Regions from separate parts of the Homo sapiens genome. Here region 1 is linked to region 2. The links come from fine-mapping of genetic effects on gene expression. A gene starts in region 2. The other region holds a variant in brackets. All regions are shown on one strand. Distances are from middle to middle. Region 1 holds the start of DOK1 (docking protein 1). Region 2 holds the start of MOGS (mannosyl-oligosaccharide glucosidase).

The links.
Region 1: its variant is fine-mapped to the expression of MOGS in whole blood (GTEx, PIP 0.97).

The regions. Positions count from the first base shown.
Region 1 is chr2:74,554,454-74,566,350 of GRCh38, reverse strand. DOK1 (docking protein 1) reads right to left here and starts at 11,631. Exons shown (of 5, transcript NM_001381.5): 1 at 11,537-11,631; 2 at 10,898-11,197; 3 at 10,683-10,776; 4 at 10,273-10,457; 5 at 8,800-10,043. The coding sequence starts at 11,596. The coding sequence ends at 9,237. M1AP (meiosis 1 associated protein) reads left to right here. Exons shown (of 11, transcript NM_001321739.2): 8 at 3,928-4,134; 9 at 6,060-6,200; 10 at 6,642-6,653; 11 at 7,477-8,468. The coding sequence ends at 7,635. It also overlaps a transcript of LOXL3 not described here. RefSeq lists enhancers at 11,330-11,389, 11,014-11,531 and a silencer at 11,540-11,897. The variant AGC/C (reference allele first, on the strand shown) is at 7,159.
Region 2 is chr2:74,459,566-74,471,462 of GRCh38, reverse strand. MOGS (mannosyl-oligosaccharide glucosidase) reads left to right here and starts at 6,081. Exons shown (of 4, transcript NM_006302.3): 1 at 6,081-6,567; 2 at 6,741-6,967; 3 at 8,077-8,273; 4 at 8,451-10,406. The coding sequence starts at 6,216. The coding sequence ends at 10,188. WBP1 (WW domain binding protein 1) reads right to left here. Exons shown (of 4, transcript NM_012477.4): 2 at 11,718-11,820; 3 at 11,414-11,590; 4 at 10,582-11,242. The coding sequence ends at 10,782. INO80B-WBP1 (INO80B-WBP1 readthrough (NMD candidate)) reads right to left here. Exons shown (of 8, transcript NR_037849.1): 6 at 11,718-11,820; 7 at 11,414-11,590; 8 at 10,572-11,242. RefSeq lists silencers at 3,807-4,101, 6,295-6,514.

The sequences.
Region 1 (11,897 bases), 95 kb before region 2:
CTATCCCCATTCATCTTTCTTGCCTTTCCACACCCATGTACTTGTTGCCACATCTATCTAGACCTTTTGCACCATAGCTCTCTGATATGAGAAATGTCACATTACTATATTTTTCTAAATCAAATTTAGAAAGCATTGGTTCCCAAGGGCCAGGATGTTGACACACGCAATATCTTCATGGGTGCCTCTACCCCTAGGATCATACCCAGAATCCAAAGAGCTTAACACAGTACAGAAAATGTGGAAAATGACCTTCTGGTCTTCAGCACACCTCCCAGGACAATAGTGAATAGAAGTAGCAAGAGCAGACATCTCTGCCTTGTTTCTGATGTTAGAGGCAGAGAATCCACTCTTTCACCACTACATATGAGGTTAGCTGTGGATTTTTTTATAGAGGTTTTTATCAGGTTGAGGAAGTTCCATTCTACTCCTAGTTTACTGAGCATTTTTATTATGTAAGGGTGTTGGATTTTGCCAAATGTTTGTGTGTGTGTGTGTGTGTGTGTGTGTGTGTGTGTGTGTGTGACGGCATCTCACTCTGTTGCCCAGGCTGGAGGGCAGTGGTGTGATTTCGGCTCACTGCAACCTCCGCCTCCTGGGTTCAAGTGATTCTCCTGCCTCAGCTTCCTGAGTAGCTGGGACTACAGGCACGTGCCACCACTCCCGGCTAATTTTTGTATTTTTTTAGTAGAGATGGGGTTTCACCATATTAGCCAGGCTGGTCTTGAACTCCTGACCTTGTGATCCACCCACCTCGGCCTCTCAAAGTGCTAGGATTACAGGTGTGAGCCACCACGCCCGGCTGCCAAATGTTTTTTCTCCATCTATTGAGATGATTATGTAGTTTTTGTTCTTTATTCTGTTAATATAGTATATTACATCAGTTGATTTGAGGGTATTAAACCAGCCTTAGGGATAAATCCTACTTTGTTGCAGTATATAATTCATTTTATATGTTGCTAAATTTGATTTGCTAATATGTAGTTAGGGTTTTTGTATCTATATTAATAAGAGATATTGATCTATAGTTTTCTTTTCTCATGATGTCATTGTTCTGGCATGGTTCTGTGTACCCACACCTAGTGCTTGGAACATAATAGGCGCTCAATAAATTCTTTTTTTTTTTTTGAGATGGAGTCCCGCTCTGTCGCCCAGGCTGGAGTGCAGTGGTGTGATCTCGGCTCACTGCAACCTCCACCTCCCGGGTTCAAGTGATTCTCCTGCCTCAGCCTCCTGAGTAGCTGGGATTACAGGCATACACCACCATGCCTGGCTAATGTTTTTGTATTTTTATTAGAGACCGGGTTTCACCATGTTGGCCAGACTGGTCTCAAACTCCTAACCTCAGTTGATCTGCCCGCCTCAGCTTCCCAAAGTGCTGGCATTACAGGCGTGAGCCACTGTGCCTGGCCTGAATAAATTCTTAATAGACAAAAAATTCACAAGTAAATGCACGAATCAATGTAAAAATAGAAGATTTAAAATAATACTAATAATCCAAATCCTGAGCCCCATCAGAAGTTACTTAAGCCAACTGAAATGGAGTCCCCTGAAACTTCCTGGTTTCTATCCCTTCCAGGCTTAAACAGGCCATGTCCTCAGAGCAGGGGCAGGTCCAACCCACAATCCACATACACACACACCATGATTTGTATACCATTTATTTCCAACATGATGGATTTTAAGCATCAAGCTGACTTTCCTGCACATTTGGATTTGTTCTTCAGGAAGACAGCACATCTCTAGATAGAAGCAAAATGCTAAGAAAGCATGAACTTCTGAAGGCACGCATAAAGCTCTTGGCACAGTACCTGGTGCCTGATAAGCATTCCTTTAAAGTTTGTAATTATGATTATGACTAATTTTCCCATGCCCAAATCATCTGTCCCACCCCCAAAACCTTCTAGTGAGGATGCATCATGCCTCCCGAATTATCAGTCAAGTCCTACCCCACAAAGAGGTCAGCAACCGCAGGAATGGTACATACCTGTTTTTCTTGGAGCTGTTAACAGGTTTCCTACCACTTGCTGTGCCTACCAGACCTCCTCAGAGCTCCGCACTGCACAGAATGATGACACTGCTTTAAAGTGCAGAGCCTCCCCTACACCCACCCCAGCATGTGTCCCGTGGGGTCTAACTCTCATGCTACAGCAAGTGTTTTCTGTCTCACTGTGTCACTTTCTATTTGTCTTCCACAAGACACTGATAATCCTCTTTCCTCTAAAAATCTTTTCCCCCTTTTTGCCTTTCCTCTTTTATTATTTGTCTCAACTTTTCATATAAGAGTAGCCAGAACTCATGTGTTTTCTTCTATCTTATGTAGCAGGGAGGTTGTTACGGTTTGTACCAGATGTAACTGAAGATCACCCCCAGTAAGAGGACACAGTTTGAGATGATTATGATAGTTCTAACTCCATATTTCCTGGAGTTTTGTGTTTTTTGTTGAAAAGCTACCACAAAAAAAATTGCCTCATTTTCATGGCTCATTTAAAAGGGTACATCTACAAAATCTTCTCAGAAGTCTGGTTGTCTCTTCTTCTTACCCATGCCCTAACCTCTGCCATCACCATGGCACATGGCAAAGTGCCACCCTCTGTTCCATAATAACCCATCATCCACAGAGGCACTGCCCCCAGAATCCTGACTCTTCTTGTCCTGTGATTGGCTGAGATGATCTCAAGGGCCCTGCACCCACCCACCTCTCCCTCTGCTCTTTCTTTATGTTTTTTTTTTTTTTTTTTTTTATGTTTTGAGACAGAGTTTCGCTCTTATTGCCCAGGCTGTAGTGCAATGGTGCAATCTCAGCTCACTGCAACCTCCACCTCCCAGGTACAAGCAATTCTCCTATCTCAGCCTCCCAAGTAGCTCGGATTACAGGCATGCGCCACCACGTCCAGCTAATTTTTTTGTATTTAGTAGAGATGGAGTTTCACCATGTTAGTCAGGCTGGTCGAGAACTCCTGACCTCAGGTGATCCACCCGCCTCAGCCTCCCAAAGTGCTGGATTACAGGTGTGTGCCACCGCTCCCGGCCCTGCTCTCTCTTTCTCCTCCCACTTTGCAGGCTGCTTTCACTGCCTTCTCTCTATCTGTCTGTCTATCTATCAATCATCTATCTATCTTTATTTATTTAATTTTTTGTAGAGTCTTGGTATGTTGCACAGACTGGTCTTGAACTCCTGGGTTCAAGCAGTCTTCCTGGCTTGGCCTCCCAAAGTGCTGGGATTACAGATGTGAGCCACCACATCTGGCCTTACTACCTTGTACCCTCTCTGGACATTCCAGGGATACTGCCCAGTCAGCCCATTCTAATCCCAGTTGTTAGCAAACAACCAGACTTTATTACCCTCAAAAGAAGAACTGAATTTCTACAACAGACAACACCCCATACAAGTCTTGGTTTCAAGACACTGCTTTTTTCTTTTTCCTTTTGAGACAGAGAGGGTCTCACTCTGTCACCCAGGCTGGAGTGCAGTGGTACAATCATGGCTCACTGAAGCCTTGATCTGCTAGGCTCAAGGAATCCTCCCACCTCACCCTCCTGAGTAGCTACGGGTACAGTCACGCACCATGGGCTTCAAGACTCTGTTTTTAAGAATTATAATTCTTAAAAGTCCACATGTATGCTGAATGTGGTAGGCCCCTCTGGGATGAACACCTACTTCAAGTTACAGGGAATTTCTTAACTTTTCTCTCCATTGTTGACCCTTTTATATACTCTCTCTGGCATATCTCAAACCAGGGAGGAAGAGTAGTACATTGTGATATTGATGATTCATGCAGGAAGTCCCTCCCTACCAGGGCCGAAGTTAAATGGCTCTGCCCTCCTCAGCACCCCTGGAAGTCAGGGAAACTTCAATTGGGACTGATCCTCAAACCATGCCATAGACTAAAGATGAACCAGTATTTCTGTATGTCCTTGTTTCAGAAAAGGGAATGGCTGCTGTTAGCCAAGGGGGAACCACCGGGCCCAGGACACAGCCAGAGAATTCCTGCCAGCACCTTCTATGTGATCATGCCGTCACACTCCCTCACACTGCTGGTAAAGGCGGTGGCCACGCGGGAACTGATGCTGCCCAGCACCTTCCCCCTGCTACCTGAGGACCCACATGATGATAGCCTTAAGAATGTGGAGGCAAGTGGAGCCCAGATCTCATGGGACAGATCTAGAAGCGAATGGAGTTTGAGAAAGGGATGAGGGAGAGGAGTGAGCCCATGAGGGAATGGATGCGGAGCTGAAGGAGTGTGGTAAGAGAGTAAGAAGAGAAAGCAAGGATAGGCAATTATGCCAGAAGAAGGAAGTAAACACTTAGATTATGGCAGCAGGGTAAGGAGTGAAATAGAATGGAGGGAAATGAGGTTTGAGAACAAAAAACTGGGAGAGAAAAGGGATATTGGCATCAGTGATGACTGGGAATTAGAGCCATCCTGGAGGACACACGACATGCACACGGACCTGAAATCTGAGGAATGGGTGGCTGTGAAGGAGAAAAGGGAGCATCACAGAGTGGAAACCTGATGTCAGGCCAGGGCACAGGGAGGCAGGGGAGGAAGCCACAACACCAGCAGGTCCAGCTCCTGGGGATGCACTGGACGCTTGTTTGGTTTGGTTTTGTCTTTGCGCAGACTGGTTCTCCTGCCCCCACCTCCTCCCCAGAGAGGAGATTGTGAAGTTAGACAAGGGAGAGCAGAACTTTGGGAGGGAAAGGAAAGAAGACACAGTGGAAAGCAGAAGAAAAAAGAAGGGAGAAGGGAATAAAAGGAGACCCAAAAAATCAGCCTTTGTATGGGTTTTCGTGTCTTTGTGTGTTTTTGTGCCCGAGTGTGTCTGTGGTTGGGTCTCTAAATTGGTGGCAGTGGGTGTAGATGCGCCTGTGCACATCTGTGTGCTGGTGTGTTCTTAGGGGTCTGTCTGCATTGCACGTGTGCATATGTGTATACCTGTGTTTGCGCTCATTTATGTTTGTTGAGAAAAGGCAGCCAATGTAGGTGCCCAAAATAGGAAGGGCTTCAAGATGAGATGTGATAGATGCAGATGCAGAGGAGCAAACAACTCTGAAAGCCATTTTTACCTCCTTCTTTTTCTTCTTCTCCTCCTCCTCCTCCTCCTCCTCCTCCTTCTCCTCCTCCTCCTTCTCCTCCTCCTCCTCCTTCTCCTCCTCCTCCTTCTCCTCCTCCTCCTTCTCCTCCTCCTCCTTCTCCTCCTCCTTCTCCTCCTCCTCCTTCTCCTCCTCCTCCTTCTCCTCCTCCTCCTTCTCCTTCTCCTCCTCCTCCTCCTCCTCCTCCTCCCCTCCTCCTCCACCTGTTTCTCCTCCTTCTCCTTTTCCTCTTCCTGGGATCTGGATTCTCTATATTTGCTCTGCTAGTCTCCCCAGGCTAAGAGTGGGAGGGCTGGCTCTGGGTAGGGAGAACTGGAACCACGTCGCTGCTGGCTCGCTAGCTTAAATGCAGCAAGGACAAGGCCTGGGATTGTGCTCTTGGCTTGGCGGCCACAGAGACACAGAGAGAGGTGGGCACAAGTGGCCATGGCCTGCTCAGTGTCTCACTTTGGGGCCAGTGGTTCCTGGCACAGGATGTTGTGGCCGGAAAACCTGACTGCACAGGAATGTTGTGCTCCTGTATCCCCTCCTCCCTTTCCATTCAGCTCAGCTCACCTCTAGGCTGAGAACTCCATGTACTCGCCTTGCAGGCTGTGAGCACCCTGCCCTGCAGGGTAGCCCACTGACACACCCTCCCTCCATGCTCACAGTGGATCCCTTGTAGCATTCATGTGCGCCGGCCCCCTCAGAACCCCTGGACATGCATCTTGGGGCCAGAGTGTTCAGTGTTCCTAACCACTTAGGGTTGTTCCTACTTCTCCTATCCATGCCTGGCCCTTACATCACAAGCACTGGACCTCAGGCCAGAACACCCAGGGGGACAGCATCTATTTCACAGCCTTCATGGCAGCCCTGGGGTTTCACACTTCCTCCAGCCCCTCACACTCCTGGATCGCTACCTGACATCTTGTGTTCTGTGATCTTAAGTTCCCTAGTGAGGCCCCTCCTCTCTTTTCCTCAGAGCATGCTGGACAGCCTGGAGCTGGAGCCCACCTACAACCCCTTGCATGTTCAAAGCCACCTGTACTCACACCTGAGCAGCATCTATGCCAAGCCTCAGGGGCGGCTCCACCCACACTGGGAGAGCCGAGCTCCGAGAAAGGTACCGCTCCCCTCCTTCCCTCCTCTTCCTTACTTCCCCTCCCTCCCCTTCATGCCCAGAGTCCTAGAAAACCCTCCTCCCCCATCCCAACACCGCCCCCATCCAAGGGAGTAGCCTTCCTCCAGGATCCACCCCTGGTGGAGGGGAAAATTAGAACCCTTACTGGGTAGGGAGGCCTGTTTGCTAGGGCATTTACATATAATAATGTTCAGGTGTTTTAATTGTAGTGTTTATGATAGCTCATTAAACAGACCATTGTCCCATTAAGCAAACTGGCTACACAGGAACTATAACCACAGTCCTCGTGAAAGAAAAGGCTGAAGGAAAGGTGGGAAAAGAAATGCCCAAGGGATGGGAAATTAATATTTATAGAGCACCAGTCATTTGCCAGGTTTTATGATAAGTGCTTGCTTATATGTTTTTCTCATTTAATCCTCACAGCATCCCTGCAAGGTAAGTGTTTGCTCATTTACAGATGAGGAAAGGAGGCTGACCAAGATTAGTAACTTGAGAGGACTCCCATGACTATCTGGGGTTGAAGACAGTTGGGGTTGAAGAGGGAAGAGTGATTGAGGATAGAGAAATATTTTTATGAAACCCGTGTTCTATATAATATTTGGGCTTCCTTTTGCCCTTATTAACTTTTTCTCAGTTTCTTAGTAACACAGCCTTTAGAAAAATTCTCATTTTAGGCCGGGCACGGTGGCTTATGCCTATAATTCCGGCACTTTGGAAGGCCGAGGCAGGTGGATCGCTTGAGCTCAGGAGTTTGAGACCAGCCTGGGCAACATGGCAAAACCTCGTCTCTACAAAAATACAAAAAAAATTAGCCAGGAGTGGTAGTGCACACTGTAGTCCCAGCTACTTGGGAGGCTAAGGTCGGGGGATTGCTTGAGCCCAGGAGGTCAAGGCTGCAGTGAGCCAAGATTGTGCCACTGCACTCCAGCTTGGGTAACAG[AGC/C]AAGATCCTGTCAAAAAAAAAAAAAATTCATTTTGTCTTAGCTAAAATTACAGAAGGACGTTTCCAAACCAGAGGTAGGAGCAGAGGCTACCACAAGTTAGCTGCTAGGCAAGCTGCCAGAGGTAGGACACCAGGCAAGGAGACAGGCACTGTGGAGGCTGGGCTTAAGGGACTCCAGATCACTGTCCTCGGCCTTGAGGCTGTCACTCCAGGGAATGAACTTAGGAAAGAGTTAGGACAGGAAGCCCAACAGAGAATGGGATAGGTGCTCAGAAACTCTGATCTTCAGAGAAGGCTCTGGTTGCTCTCTTTGCAGACTGGGCAGTTGCAGACCAACCGAGCTCGAGCTACTGTGGCCCCCCTGCCTATGACTCCTGTCCCAGGCAGAGCCTCCAAGATGCCAGCAGCCAGCAAATCTTCCTCAGATGCCTTCTTCCTGCCTTCAGAGTGGGAGAAGGATCCCTCAAGGCCCTAAGTCACCAGCACCAGAGCCCAGCTGCCCAGCTTAACCATATCCATGCTCAGGTTCACATAATGGCTATCTGTGGTCAGACTTGCTCTCTATCCGCCTGAGCCTCTGTGAGTGAGGGCTGACTGGGAAACAACAGCCTTCCTGTCCTGTTTCAGTGCTGTCCCACTCCTCAAGTCTGGAAGCGACACACCCGAGCCTGTCCTTTCTCCAGCAAGGACTTTCATTTTCTTTAGAATCATTTGCTACTGTTTACACAGGTGAAGATTAAACACCCAGTAAGCTTCTACCATTGTTAGGAGCATTCATAACTCAGAATTTCTTCTTGTAGCTCTGTGTAAGCAGGTGGATGAGGTCAGATCACCTTTGGTAAACTGGACCTCAGGAACAAGGATGAGGTTTTGAAAGCTCATAAAAGACAAGTAAGATTGAAATCCAAGCCTCATTTCAGAGCCTGTGCCCTTCCCACTACACCACCAGGCTTCAGCCTCCAAAGAGACAAGTGCTTGGTACCTACATGCAAAGTGTGTGTGCTGGGGGGTGGGAGGGCTGCCCAGAACAGGGGAGAGGATGGTGTAAAAAAAGACCTACTCCTTTCCTGTTACCCTCTCCCCACATGTACCAACCTTCCTGTTGCTCCCTCCATCCACAGAATAATAGCTACCATTTATAAAATGTTTACTCTGGGCTGGGAGCAGTGGCTCACACCTGTAATCCCAACACTTTGAGAGGCTGAGGTGGGATGATCACTTGAGGCCAGGAGTTCGAGACCAGCCTGAGCAACACTGTGAGACCCCCCCGCCATCTCTACATAAATAATAAAAACTTTTAAAAAAACACCCTGTGCTTCAGATTACACTAAATACTTATAATGTATCTAATTTCATACAAAAAGCCCTGTGAGGTAGAGCCCATTATAGCTTTTCCATTTTACAGAGGGGCACAGGGGAAACTGAGGGTTGCAGATGTTATCACCCAGGGCCACAGAGCTCACATCTAGCCCAGGGCAGCTTGACTTGACTCCCCAGGCACTGAACCGCCACACTTCTGTTCCCTTCCTGGGCCCCTTGCCTCTCCGTGACTCTCAACACATTCCTGGTTCTCCTCTTGATCCCCACCACACCCAACCCAACCACTGTGTCCCCTCTTTTTCTCTTCACACACATAAACTTCTTAAACCCAAGCTGACTTTAATGAGAATTTTAAAATTTTTAAATAGGTCTCTGGCAAAGAACAATGCAGGAGTAAGGATCCAGGCACAGTCCAACATCTCCCTGAGGCCTCCACACAGGCCCCTCAAACTGCACCCATTCTGACCATGCACCACTTTCCACAGACCTGGTCCCACAGCCGTCCCTTCATTTGGGGAAGTAGGGAAGGGATGGCTTTGGGGGATGCAGAGCCCATCCTCAGCCCTGCCATCTGCCCCACTTCTTAGGACTTCCTGGGATTGTCCTTCCCTTGACTCTCCCATCCCTCTGGTCCCCTGGTCTCACACAGCATGGCCCCTCCCACCCTCTGGCTTCTGCTGGTTCTAACCATCTTCTTTGATCCCTAGTGCCACCTCCCCATGGTCCCCCTTAGCCACCTCAGCCTTGCCGTCCTTCTCAGGTAGAGCCCTCTGACTTGACCCCAGTCTTGTCAGTCCCTACTCTAGAGAGCCCACAGTCCCAGCTCCCTGAGGCCCCGCTCTTCTGGACCTGGCTGTACAGGGCTGAGTTGTGGCTTTTGATGCCACTGCCAGTTGCAGTACCAGGTTCAGGGAAGGCTGGGCCCTGGGGCTTGGGAGCAAGGAGGGGCTTTGTGCTCCGAGGGGGTGGCACAGCGTAGTCATCAGTGGCAGGGTTGTAGGGGAGCTCATAGCCCTCCTCCTTCACCCGAGCTTGGCACCACCATGCATCCTTGGGCTCCCGAGGCAGATCATAAAGGCCCTGGGGAGGGACTGGGGCCAGGCCCTCAGGTTCATCATAGATGGGATCCTCTTTGGGGTCTGTCAGCTTGGCCTTCAGCAACTGCTGCTGCGCATGCTCATACAAGTCCCAATAGAGAGGTTTCTTCCGTTGTACTCCCTCTCCTGCCTGAGCAGACGTGCTGTCCAAGGGGTCTGAGTATAGGGAGTCCTGGGAAGGGCATGGAGCAATGCGCAGGGAGTCTAAGGGCTCAGCATACAGGGCTGGGGGACTGTCGAGGAGCTCTTGGGGGCCAGGTGGGGAAGGCAACTTCCCCTCTGCCACCTCCCCTTCATGGGAGTCAGCTCTGAGAACATCGTGCCCCTGTCCGGCCTTTCCCTGGGCCTTCTGCCGGTGGATGGCAGTCTCAACTGCCTGGAAGATGTCATTTCCCTGTGCCGTCTGGAAGGTGAAGGTTCCAGGGCCTGAGGGGCAGCGGCGGCCGGCCTCGAAAGAGAACATGACCTAAGGAGGGTAGAGGGGGAAACACATTACCAGGAGCCATCAGAGGAAGTGAGTCACACGCCTGCACTAGTTAGGGTATCTACAAAGAAGAGACCACCTGCGAACAGACGCGGGGTCACCGGGTAGGCAAGAAAGGGGGATCCAAAGGTCAGAGCTTCCCACTTTCTGTCCTGCCCCACCCCTCCCACAGCTGCCCAACCCAGGAAGCCCTCCCGGACAGCCCCTGCACCTTGTCCCGGCCATAGCGACGCAACAGAGTGTAGGGCCAGGACAGGAGTGGCTCCAGTATCTGACTCTGGGCCCCCACGGTCAGGAGAGTCAGCCTTTCAGCCTCCACCCTCAGCACGTAGGAGCCATGCAGGCCACAGCGCTCGGCGGCCTCAGTCCTCTGCACCGTTACCCAGAATTGGGATCCTGGAAGGCATACACGATTAGACAGCTGCGGGGGAGGGACGGGGGCAGCAGTGGGGACCCAGAGGACTCATGAGCATAGTGTCCAAGCACTCACTCGGAAGCCAGATCTCAGGGCCTTCCTACTTCTTACTTCCCCATGGGCCCCTGGGTATCCACCCACTTCCCAAAGGCCCTCGGCCCTCCTCCTCTTCACTCCATCCCTGCCCGGGCTTCTGAGGCGTCTACCTTCCCAGGTAGGGCTGTACAAGGAGTTCTCCAGCATCTCCAGGGCAGAAAGCTTAGGTGGGTTATCGGTAGGCGCCAGAGTCCAGCTGCCTTTCTGTAGTAGAGAGCATCGAGAAACCCGTAATTTCCTCAGCGGGGAGCGGGGGTCGGTCTGAGGCAGCCCCATTTCTCTGCCTCTGTAACTGCCCCCACCCCGCATCGCCGCAGCTCCTCACCGGAAAGGCGTTTCGGCACAGCGTCTGCACCCAGGCTGCACTGGACGGCGCGTCGGCCGCCAGCAGGTGCGAGCGCTGAGCAGTGTCCAGGCGGAAGGCAGTGGCGCCGGGCTCAGGGGGGGTCTCCACGGTGACGGGGGCCACACTCACACACTCAGCCAGACGGATCACTTTGCAGTCCAGGCGGCGCGAGCTCCCTCGGCCACCCCCAGAGCTCGACCCCTTATGGTCAAAGAACTCGAGCCGCGCTACGCCGTGGGGACTGGCCGGGTAGAGCACGGCCCAGGTCTTCCTCCACCTCTAGGGAGAGAGAGAGAGTGCTCGAGAGGGAGTGGCGTGCGCAGGCGGCCCGGGTCCCGACGGGGAAGGAGGTTGCGGCGCAAGTCGATTTGGGATCTGGGGCTTCCAAACGGGGTTGGGGGCGAAGTTTCCCAAGGACGATGCCACTCCGTCTCCCCAGGACCAGAACCCCTAGACTACAGACGCTTCCCGGGAGTGTGCAAAGCAACTTCACGGGAAAGTCACAGGCTCTCCAACTCCCGGCGCCGCTCTCCAGCCCGCTGCCCACCTCTCCCTGTTTCTGGGCTCTCTCACCCACTACTAGCCCGGATAAGGTTCGGCATCCATGCGCCAGACTACCTTGGTCCCAAAGCGCTGACTCTGCAAAAAAAGCGGCCCTTCCATCACTGCTCCGTCCATGGCCCCCGGCGGTTCCTTCCGCGCTTCCTGGCCCTGCGGCGGGAGGCGGGGCGGGAGGCGGGGCCGGGTTCCCTGGAGGAGTTTCCGCCCCTCCCCGGCCCCCGCCGGCAGCCGCTGGGGGGGTCGCGGTGGGGTGAGGGAGAGGAGCGAGAAGGAATGGTGGAGACCCCCGGATTAGCCGGGAGCTGCAGCACCCCAGGCCCCTACCCGCCGTCGTGGGGGCGCGCCAGTGGCTCCACCGAAAGTCCTCGGTTTTGGCGCGAGGGCCCTGGCCTCTGGGCGTGGTGGCTGCGCGTGACGT
Region 2 (11,897 bases):
CGAGTCAGGCAGATCACCTGCTTGGAGAAACCCCACCTCTACTAGAAAATACAAAAAAATTAGCTGGGTGTGGTGGCACAAGCCTGTAATCCCAGCTACTCGGGAGGCCGAGCGAGGCAAGAGAATCGCTGGAATCCAGGAGGTGAAGGTTGAAGTAGGCTGAGGTCACACCACTGCACTCCAGCCTGAGCAAGAGTGAGACTCTGTCTCAAAAAAAAAAAAAAAACAAAAACACTAACAGAGTGCTGTTTTTTCAGCTCTCATCGTTGTATCCCAGTTCCATCTTTTTTTTTTTTTTTTTTTTTTTTTTAAATAGAGGTGGGGTTTTGTCCTGTTGCACGGGCTGGTCTCTAACTCTTGGACACAAGTGATCCTCCTGCCTCGGCCTCCCAAAGTGCTGGGTTCACAGGCGTGAGCCACCAACGCCTGGCCGCATCTACAACTCTTGTTTTTGAGATAGAGTCTCACTCTGTCACCCAGACTGGAGTGCAGTGGCGTGACCTTGGCTCACTGCAGCCTCCGCCTCCCGGGTTCCAGTGATTCTCCTGCTTCAGCCTCCTGGGTGGCTGGGATTACAGGCATGTGCCACCACGCCTGGCTGATTTTTGTATTTTCAGTAGAGATGGGGCTTTGCCATGTCAGCCAGGCTGTCCTCAAACTCCTGATCCGCCCCCTCGGCTTCCCAAAGTGCTGGGATTACAGGCATGAGCCACTGTGCCCGGCCTGCAACTCTTAATTCACCCATTTGTGGAACTTCTCTCCCTCTTGGGTCCTTTTTCTTTTGAACCACACAGGTGTTCTACCTTCATTCTTTTTCTTCTCTATTTTTTTCTGGGGCATCTCATCCTCTTTCACAACTTGAATTACACCTTCTGGGGTTAAACTATTTCTGTTTGGTTCTAATCCCAACTTCTATGCTATAATCAGGTTACCTGCTACCAATTTCCTCCAAATCCCACCAACTCTCTTTGTATAAAATAGAATTGATAATCTTACATACACATATACTTGCCTCTCTTCCCTGACTTACCCATTCCTTTTTAAAAACAGGCACTTCATCTACTCAGCCACCTGGGCTGGAAACCAGTGTTCTCTAGTTCTGTTCCTTTCCATTCTCTGCATATCTGGTCACTCAGTTCAGAATATTCTGTCTTTTAAAAAAGTGCCTGAAAGTTGGGCAAGGTGGCTCATACTTGTAGTCCCACCTACTCAGAAGGCTGAGACAGGAGGATCCTTTTGAGCCTAAGAGTTCAAGGCTAGAGTGAGCTGTGGTTGCACCACTACACTCTAGCCTGGTGACAGAGCAAGACACTGTCTCAAAAACAAAACAAAACTTCTGAAGTGATCTCTCCATTCCCATTCACTCTATTCATCATTATTGCATTCTGCTACCCAGTCTATTTCCTAAATATTTTTGCTGCCACTTAATTTTATCCTTCCAAAACATGCGATGGGTTTTATCTCTCACTACTCCCTGTTTAAGAAAACAGTGCCGGCCGGGCATGGTGCCTCATGCCTGTAATCCCAGCACTTTGGGATTTGGCCGAGGTGGGTGGATCATGAGGTCAGGAGTTCGAGACCAGCCCAACCAACATGGTGAAACCTCATCTCTTAAAAATACAAAAATTAGCCGGGCGTGGTGGCAGTTGCCTGTAATCCCAGCTACTCAGGAGGCTGAGGCAGGAGAACTGCTTGAACCCAAGAGGTGGAGGTTACAGTGAGCCGATACTGCACCACTGCACTCCAGCCTGGGTGACAGAGCAAGACTCCGTCTCAAAAAAAGAAAAAACATTGCCTAAACTGTTTTTCATACTTCCTCAACACTCATTAGTGTGGACCATGCAATCAATTTAGGGAGTTAAACCATTCTTTTTTTTTTTTTTTAGATAGGGTTTCGCTCTTGTTGCCCAGGCTGGAGTGCAATGGCACAATCTCAGCTCATTGCAACCTCCGCATCCCGGGTTCAAGCAATTCTCCTGCCTCAACCTCACAAGTAGCTGGGATAACAGGCATGCACCACCATGCCTAATTTTGTACTTTTAGTAGAGGGGGTTTCTCCATGTTGGTCAGGCTGGTCTCGAACTCCTGGCCTCAGGTGATCTACCCACCTCGGCCTCCCAAAGTGCTGGTATTACAGGCATGAGCCACCGCACCCAGCCTAAACCATTCTTAAAAAAATAATAATAATAAAATAAAATAAAAAAAGTAGGCCGGGTGGAGTGGCTCATGCCTGTAATCCCAGCACTTTGGGAGGCTTTGGCGGGCAGATCACTTGAGGTTGGGAGTTAGAGACCAGCCAGGCCAATATGATGAAACGCTGTCTCTACTAAAAATAAAAAAATAAAAAATAGCTGGGTGTGGTGGCAGGCACCTGTAATCTCAGCTACTCAGAAGGCTGAGACAGGAGAATCACTTGAACCCAGGAGGTGGAGGCTGCGCTGAGTGGAGATCATGCCACTGCACTCCAGCTCGGTTGATGGAGTGAGACTCTGTCTCAAAAAAAAAAAAAAAGTAGAATAGAATAAAAATTATCAGACTGAGGCTGAGTTTAATGGCTCATGCCTGTAATCCCATCACTTTGAGAGGCCGACGTGGGCGGAATCACCTGAGGTCAGGAGTTCAAGACCAACCTGACCAACATGGTGAAACCCCATCTCTACTAAAAATACAAAAAATTAGCCGGGTGTGGTGGCGGGCACCTGTAATCCCAGCCACTTGGGAGGCTGAGGCAGGAGAATTGCTTGAACCCGGGAAGTGGAGGTTGCAGTAAGCCGATAGCACCATTGCACTCTAACCTGGTTGACAAGAGCAAGGCTCCATCTCAAAAAAAAAAAAAAAAAAAATCAGACTGCATGGCACTTAGAATAGGAAGTTTAAAGAGATTAAGTCATGCTTTGTCACCCAGGCTGGAGTGCAGTGGCACAATCGTAGCTCACTGCACCCTCCATCTCCTGGGCTCAAGCAGTCCTCCCGCCTCAGCCTCCCAAGCAGCTGGAATTACAGGCGTGAGCCACCATGCCTGGCCTAATTTTTTTTTTTTTTTTTTGAGATGGAGTCTTGCTCTGTTGCCCAGGCTGGAGTGCAGTGGAGCACGATTTTAGCTCACTGCAATCTCTGTCTCCTGGGTTCAAGCGATTTCCAGCTAATTTTTGTATTTTCAGTAGAGACAGAGTTTCACCATGTTGGCCAGGCTGGTCAGGAACTCCTGACCTCAAGTAATCCACCCTCCTTGGCCTCCCGAAGTGCTAGGATTACAAGAGTAAGCCACCGTGCCCAGCCCTAATTTTTTTTTTTTTTTTTTTTTGAGACGGAGTCTTGCTCTGTCGCCGATGGTGCCATCTCAGCTCACTGCAACCTCTGCCTCCCGGGTTCAAGTGATTATCCTGCCTCAGCCTCCTAAGTAGCTGGGATTACAGGCGCGTGCCACCATGCCCAGCTAATTTTTGTGTTTTTAGTAGAGGCGGGGTTTCACCATGTTGGCCAGGCTGGTCTTGAACTCCTAACCTCAGGTGATCCACCGCCTCAGCCTTCCAAGGTGCTGGGATTACAGGCGTGAGCCACCACACCCGGCCAACCCTAATTTTTAAATTTTTTGTAGATGGGGGGGTCTCCTCATCTTGTCCAGGCTGGTCTAGAACTCCTGAACTCAAGTGATTCTCCTGCCTTGGCCTCCTAAAGTGCTGTGATTACAGACGTGAGCCACCACACCCAGCTAAAAGTATTCTTTTAGGTAACTTGTTTTAAATAAGTTGTGTGTGTATGTGTATCTGCACATACTGGGTTGCACTATGGAATTATTTCTTATTGTGAGTTGTAGGAAAATGGTTGAAAGCCACTGCTTTAGACACCTTCACAATGCTCAGCTAGGTAACAAAAGATCTGTAGACAGTGGCCTGCTGTGTACTTTGCCAGATACATTTCCCACGACCCTCCTACAGCAGCATTACTATACCTTTTCCCGGTCTAAAAGGGTGCTATCTTCAAAGGACCGTTTTTCCCCTCCCCCTTTAAAAAAGAAAGCTAGGAGGAGGCAGTATAGTGTTGTAATGAGCCAGACTGCTTGGGGTTGAGATCCTAGCTTTGTTTTTATGTAGCTGTATGACTTTAGACAAATTATTTAATCTATCAGTGCTTATTTCATTTGTAAAATGAAAATAATAGTACTTTTCTCATAGGACTGTTAAGGAGATTAAATGAATTAATATCTGTAAAGTACCTAAAACATTGCTGGGAGTGTAGTAACTGCTGTTATCTAAGAGGCCTTATTTATTCTTTTTTTTTTTTTTTTTTTTTTTTGAGACAAGAGTTTCGCTCTTGTTGCCCAGGCTGGAGTGCAATGGCACAATCTTGGCTCACTGCAATCTCTGCCTCCCGGGTTCAAGTGATTCTCCTGCCTCAGTGTCACGAGTAGCTGGGATTACAGGCATGCACCACCATGCCCAGATAATTTTGTATTTTTTAGTAGAGACGGGGTTTCTCCATGTCGGTCAGGCTGGTCTCGAACTCCCAGCCTCAGGTGATCCGCCCGCCTTTGCCTCCCAAAGTGCTGGGACTACAGGCTTGAGCCACTGCGCCTGCCCTAAGAGGCCTTATTCTAAAGTCAAAAGAACAACCTGGATTTGAGTTCCCCAGCTCCATAATTAACTGGCTGTTATTTTGGGTCAGTCTTAACTACTCTCCTCATCTGTAAAAATGGGGGTGGTCTGGCCAGGCGCGGTGGCTCACGCCTGTAATCCCAGCACTTTGGGAGGCCGAGGTGGGTGGATCACCTGAGGTCAGGAGTTCGAGACCAGCCTGGCAAACCTGGTGAAACTCCATCTCTACTAAAAATACAAAAATTAGCTGGGCGTGGTGGTGGGCACCTGTAATCCCAGCTACTCGTGAGGCTGAGGCAGGAGAATCACTTGAACCCTGGAGGCAGAGGTTGCAGTGAGCCGAGATCATGCCATTGCACTCCAGCCTGGTGACAGAGCGAGACTCCGTCTCAAAAAAAAAAAAAAAAAAAAAATGGGTATGGTTCAACATGCATTGAGTGCTGGCATTGTGCTTCTAGACTGTGAACTTGAGGTTGGGGCCATTTTCTCTGAGTCCCCAGCACCTTGCATAATGCGATATAGGGTGTACAATAAACATGTGTTGAATTTATAAATATTTAGCATCTGCCTTATGCCTATAATTGATTAGTACTGTGATACAAAGATGAAAAATGAAACAGGTATGTAATAAGTGCTACAATAAGGATGTCGACAAATGCAACGGTAGCAAGAAAGACAAAAACAGGACTAACCATTGGGTTTGGTCAGATGATTTCATAAGCAAAAAGTCTACCACTAGTGGAGAGTGGGGCCACCAGTCAGATTATAGTGAAATATAAGTGGTCGTGTTGCATAAAGCATCAGTCTCTCTCTCTCTCTCTCTCTCTCCCTCCGTCCCTCCCTCCCTCCCTCCATCTCTCTCTCTCTCTCTCTTTCTTTTTTTTTGAAACAGTTTCACTCTTGTTGCCCAAGCTGGAGTGCAATGGCGCAATATCGGCTCACTGCAACCTCCGCCTCCCAGGTTCAAGCAATTCTCCTGCCTCAGCCTCCCGAATAGCTGGGATTACAGGCACCCACCACCACACCCGGCTAATTTTTGTATTTTTAGTAGAGATGGGGTTTCACCAAGTTGACCAGGCTGGTCTCCAACTCCTCATGTCTGGTGATCCACCTGCCTCGGCCTCCCAAAGTGCTGGGATTACAGATGTGCGCCTCGGTGCCTGGCCACATCAGTCTTTTTTTTTTTTTTTTGAGACGAAGTCTCGCTCTGTCGCCCAGGCTGGAGTGCAGTGGCACAATCTCGGCTCACTGCAACCTCCGCCTCCCGGGTTCAAACGATTCTCATGCCTCAGCCCAACGTTAGATTGGTTTTTCCGAGCCTGTGAACTCCATGGGGTCGCCAGATAAACGCAATCCCGGTGGACCAACGCCCAGGACAGACGCTACGTACCAACCCTGTGTCAAGCCGCAGGCAGCGGTTCCGGACTCTGGGACTTAACCTAACGTGGCGGGGCGGGACTTCCGGCGGGAGGCGGAGGCGGAGGCGCAGGCGCTGGCTGGCAGGTGTCGCTAACCGGACGGTGGTCGCCAGGGCGAGAGGCGGGAGCCGGAGAGGTGAGGCAGGACCCGGGCTCCACTGCCGCCTCTCCGAGCTCTTGTGACGCGGACCTCAGTGCCAGGATGGCTCGGGGCGAGCGGCGGCGCCGCGCAGTGCCGGCAGAGGGAGTGCGGACAGCCGAGAGGGCGGCTCGGGGAGGCCCCGGGCGACGGGACGGCCGGGGCGGCGGGCCGCGTAGCACGGCTGGAGGAGTGGCTCTGGCCGTCGTGGTCCTGTCTTTGGCCCTGGGTATGTCGGGGCGCTGGGTGCTGGCGTGGTACCGTGCGCGGCGGGCGGTCACGCTGCACTCCGCGCCTCCTGTGTTGCCTGCCGACTCCTCCAGCCCCGCCGTGGCCCCGGACCTCTTCTGGGGAACCTACCGCCCTCACGTCTACTTCGGCATGAAGACCCGCAGCCCGAAGCCCCTCCTCACCGGTAACCGGGCCCCAGGGCGGGCAGGCAGGCGGACTCCTAATCTGGGCGCCCCAGCTTGAAGCGAGAGCAAGGGTGGGAAGGAATGGATCAGGAGAGTTATGAAGAGGGATGACCCGGAGACCCGGAGGGACAGGTCCCCTGCTCTTTGACTTACGTGGCCATTCTACCCCCAGGACTGATGTGGGCGCAGCAGGGCACCACCCCGGGGACTCCTAAGCTCAGGCACACGTGTGAGCAGGGGGACGGTGTGGGTCCCTATGGCTGGGAGTTCCACGACGGCCTCTCCTTCGGGCGCCAACACATCCAGGATGGGGCCTTAAGGCTCACCACTGAGTTCGTCAAGAGGCCTGGGGGTCAGCACGGAGGGGACTGGAGCTGGAGAGTGACTGTAGAGCCTCAGGTCAGGGCCTCAGGACACCCTTTTCTCAGCCCAGACCCCCTCCATCCTTCCCTTGCTGCCAGCAAATGCAGCATGAAGTGGGCTCTGGCTGCCTGGCTTAAATCCTGCCTTAAACAACTGCCTGTATAACCATTTCTATTTACCATCTCTAAGCCTTGATTTCCTTGCTTGTAAAATGTACAATGTAGATAATAATAGCACTTAACTCACAGGACTGTAAGAATTAAATGAAAAAGAGGCTGGGCGCGGTGGCTCACGCCTGTAATCCCAGTACTTTGGGAGGCCGAGGCTGGCGGATCACCTGAGGTCAGGAGTTCCAGACCAGCCTGACCAAAATGGAGAAACACCGTCTCTACTGAAAATATAAAATTAGCCGGGCGTGGTGGCGCATGCCTGTGATCCAAGCTACTTGGGAGGCTGAGGCAGGAGAATTGCTTGAACCAGGGAGGTGGAGGTTGCGCTGAGCCGAGATCGTGCCATTGCACTCCAGCCTGGGCAACAAGAGCAAAACTCCATCTCAAGAAAAAAAAAAAAGCCAGGCGCGGTGGCTCACGCCTGTAATCCCAGCACTTTGGGAGGCTGAGGCGGGCGGATCATGAGGTCAGGAGATGGAGACCATCCTGGCTAACACGGTGAAACCCGGTCTCTACTAAAAATACAAAAAATTAGCTGGGCGTGGTGGCGGGCGCCTATTGTCGCAGCTACTCGGGAGGCTGAGGCAGGAGAATGGCGTGAACCTGGGAGGCGGAGCTTGCAGTGAGCTGAGATCGCGCCACTGCACTCCAGCCTGGGCGACAGAGCGAGACTCCGCCTCAAAAAAAAAAAAAAAAAAAAAGAATTAAATGAAATCAACTGTGTAGAGTTCTTAGTGTAGGACATAGTACAAAAGTATACTGTTATCTCCCAGGGCACCCAGTGCAAGGCTCTTTATCTCATCCCGCTTGGGTGTACCTGGTTACCCTCAGTGACCCTCATTACTGCCAGACGTATGTTGTTTACATTACCCCTGCCTACTGTTCCTTTCCCTCACTAAGGCTGATTCTCAAGAGGGAATTCAAGAGAGAATGCCAATCTAACACTGTTCTTTTCTGTCCTCGTTGGTCACTCAGGACTCAGGTACTTCTGCCCTCCCTTTGGTCTCCCTGTTCTTCTATGTGGTGACAGATGGCAAGGAAGTCCTACTACCAGAGGTTGGGGCCAAGGGGCAGTTGAAGTTTATCAGTGGGCACACCAGTGAACTTGGTGACTTCCGCTTTACACTTTTGCCACCAACCAGTCCAGGGGATACAGCCCCCAAGTATGGCAGGTAACTGGGGGAAAAGAATGTTGGGGGATGGAAGGGGTGGTTATTCCCATTTTCACCAGTCTCCATGTCCCCTGCCTGAGACCTCCCAACCTGACTCCTGAACACTTTGTATTTCTCTTTATAATGCCCACTGCCTTCTCTTGAATAATATTTCCTATTTATCTTCTCCCCTTCAAGCTACAATGTCTTCTGGACCTCCAACCCAGGACTGCCCCTGCTGACAGAGATGGTAAAGAGTCGCCTAAATAGCTGGTTTCAGCATCGGCCCCCAGGGGCCCCCCCTGAACGCTACCTCGGCTTGCCAGGATCCCTGAAGTGGGAGGACAGAGGTCCAAGTGGGCAAGGGCAGGGGCAGTTCTTGATACAGCAGGTGACCCTGAAAATTCCCATTTCCATAGAGTTTGTGTTTGAATCAGGCAGTGCCCAGGCAGGAGGAAATCAAGCCCTGCCAAGACTGGCAGGCAGTCTACTGACCCAGGCCCTGGAGAGCCATGCTGAAGGCTTTAGAGAGCGCTTTGAGAAGACCTTCCAGCTGAAGGAGAAGGGCCTGAGCTCTGGCGAGCAGGTTTTGGGTCAGGCTGCCCTCAGCGGCCTCCTTGGTGGAATTGGCTACTTCTACGGACAAGGGCTGGTATTGCCAGACATCGGGGTGGAAGGGTCTGAGCAGAAGGTGGACCCAGCCCTCTTTCCACCCGTACCTCTTTTTACAGCAGTGCCCTCCCGGTCATTCTTCCCACGAGGCTTCCTTTGGGATGAAGGCTTTCACCAGCTGGTGGTTCAGCGGTGGGATCCCTCCCTCACCCGGGAAGCCCTTGGCCACTGGCTGGGGCTGCTAAATGCTGATGGCTGGATTGGGAGGGAGCAGATACTGGGGGATGAGGCCCGAGCCCGGGTGCCTCCAGAATTCCTAGTACAACGAGCAGTCCACGCCAACCCCCCAACCCTACTTTTGCCTGTAGCCCATATGCTAGAGGTTGGTGACCCTGACGACTTGGCTTTCCTCCGAAAGGCCTTGCCCCGCCTGCATGCCTGGTTTTCCTGGCTCCATCAGAGCCAGGCAGGCCCACTGCCACTATCTTACCGCTGGCGGGGACGGGACCCTGCCTTACCAACCTTACTGAACCCCAAGACCCTACCCTCTGGGCTGGATGACTACCCCCGGGCTTCACACCCTTCAGTAACCGAGCGGCACCTGGACCTGCGATGTTGGGTGGCACTGGGTGCCCGTGTGCTGACGCGGCTGGCAGAGCATCTGGGTGAGGCTGAGGTAGCTGCTGAGCTGGGCCCACTGGCTGCCTCACTGGAGGCAGCAGAGAGCCTGGATGAGCTGCACTGGGCCCCAGAGCTAGGAGTCTTTGCAGACTTTGGGAACCACACAAAAGCAGTACAGCTGAAGCCCAGGCCCCCTCAGGGGCTCGTTCGGGTGGTGGGTCGGCCCCAACCTCAACTGCAGTATGTAGATGCTCTTGGCTATGTCAGTCTTTTTCCCTTGCTGCTGCGACTGCTGGACCCCACCTCATCCCGCCTTGGGCCCCTGCTGGACATTCTAGCCGACAGCCGCCATCTCTGGAGCCCCTTTGGTTTACGCTCCCTTGCAGCCTCCAGCTCCTTTTATGGCCAGCGCAATTCAGAGCATGATCCCCCCTACTGGCGGGGTGCTGTGTGGCTCAATGTCAACTACCTGGCTTTGGGAGCACTCCACCACTATGGGCATCTGGAGGGTCCTCACCAGGCTCGGGCTGCCAAACTCCACGGTGAGCTCCGTGCCAACGTGGTAGGCAATGTATGGCGCCAGTACCAGGCTACAGGCTTTCTTTGGGAGCAGTACAGTGACCGCGATGGGCGAGGCATGGGCTGCCGCCCTTTCCACGGCTGGACCAGCCTTGTCTTACTGGCCATGGCTGAAGACTACTGAAGGGAGGGAGAGGAGGGGAGCCAAGACACTCATGCCACTCTGGCTCTGAAGGGACAAAGGCTTCTGGCTTTTGCCCCCAGCCCCTTGGATACCAGTAATTCAAACCTTCCTCATTTCATCTCAGGTGTCTCCTTGCTGTCATCCCACATAGCCCTGGGGTGAATGTGAATCCAGAGTCTATTTTTCTAAATAAATTGGAAAAAACATTTTGAACTCTATTGCTTTTGCCAGATTTGCCTCACCAAGAGGCCTTAGGTCAGTCCAGGCCTCAGCACTGTCTGCTGTCCTCAGGGAAGGTGGGGTCAAGTGGCCATAACCTGTCCCCTTCAAACCCAGTCAGGTCAAGTGCAATGCAGTGAGTTGAGCTTTAGTCCACCCAAATCCACAAGTAGCTGGTTCACATCTCTTTAATGAGATCAAAGGCTCCTGTGTATGTCCTGCGGGGGTAAAGCTAGCACAGTCCCCCAATACTGCCCCTCTCCAGCCCTTTCAGGCAGATTCTAGGTAGGCAGGGAGGGGCCAAAGGAACGCAAGGAGTTGGGACTAGGGCTGTTTCTGGTGGGCAAGTAACCCATCCACCCTCTCAAAACTACTTATGGGATGTCCCCTTCACTGGAAGACAGCCCCATGGGAAAGATCTGCGGTACAGACTCTGGGGGTAGTGCACACGGGGAGTAGTCCTCCAGATCTGGCAGGGTGGCACTAACCCTCACCTCCTTGACTGGCTCACCCTCACCGGAGGCAGGACAAGGGCAGAGCTCAATACCGGAGTCGCCAGTTAAACGGCGATAGCGGCAGGAGGGGGGTGTGGAGGCAGGGGTCACCCCTGCCCCGGGCTCACCCTCCTGATGAGGGGGGGCACTCTGGTGGGAGGAAACACCTTCCACATTTGTTCCTTCAAAGTGGGCAGGGCAGCTGGATGAGGAGGAACAGCAGGTTTGTTCACTGGAAGCAGTCAAGGGGCGGCCTGGGGCCACAGTATAAGGGGGGGGTGGTGTGCCTGGGCGGTGAACCACATCCTCGTAGGCTGGGGGCTTGAAGGTGCTGAGGAAGCCTGCAGGGGAGAAAATTGGCATGATTGGTTGAAGACAACCAGGTATAGGGTGCTAGTTTTTATATTAGGGAAAAATACTTTGAAATGTGTGGAAAAGGGAATGTGAGACGATTTGGGGTTCTGGTTTGGGGAGGGCCACTGGTAGCTGACCCAGGGCATCAAGTCACTCACGAAGGTCAAGCAGTGAACCGGTAGGGAAAGGACCAGCCCCATGGCATGCCCCATGATAGGCCAACAAGTTGATTTCACGCTGCCGCTGCTGTTGTTGCAGCCTGAGTTTAGCTCGTCGGTGGCGGAAGGCGCAACAGCAGCTAAAGAGGATGAGGACAGTCCAGAGCAGCCAGAACCCTGCAAGAGGCAAGGAGGGAGCAACTCAGGCATCTTTCATGCAGAGAAGGGGCCCTGAAGGCCGAAATTCTGAGGTCCAAGGGAGGGTGGACACAGGGACCTGGAAATAGCCCTCTTGGAGACTTACACCAGAGCTCATAGTAGTAGGTGCAGCAGCCAGTCTCCCCGCAGCAGTGACCACTCTCACAGAGGTAGGGCTGGTTGTTCACTCCTGGGCACAGCTCTCGAAGCTGCGGGCAAGGAGGCACTTAGAACTAAGGGGGATTCCAGCCCAGGGCACTGTCCACCCCCACCTCCTGCATGCACA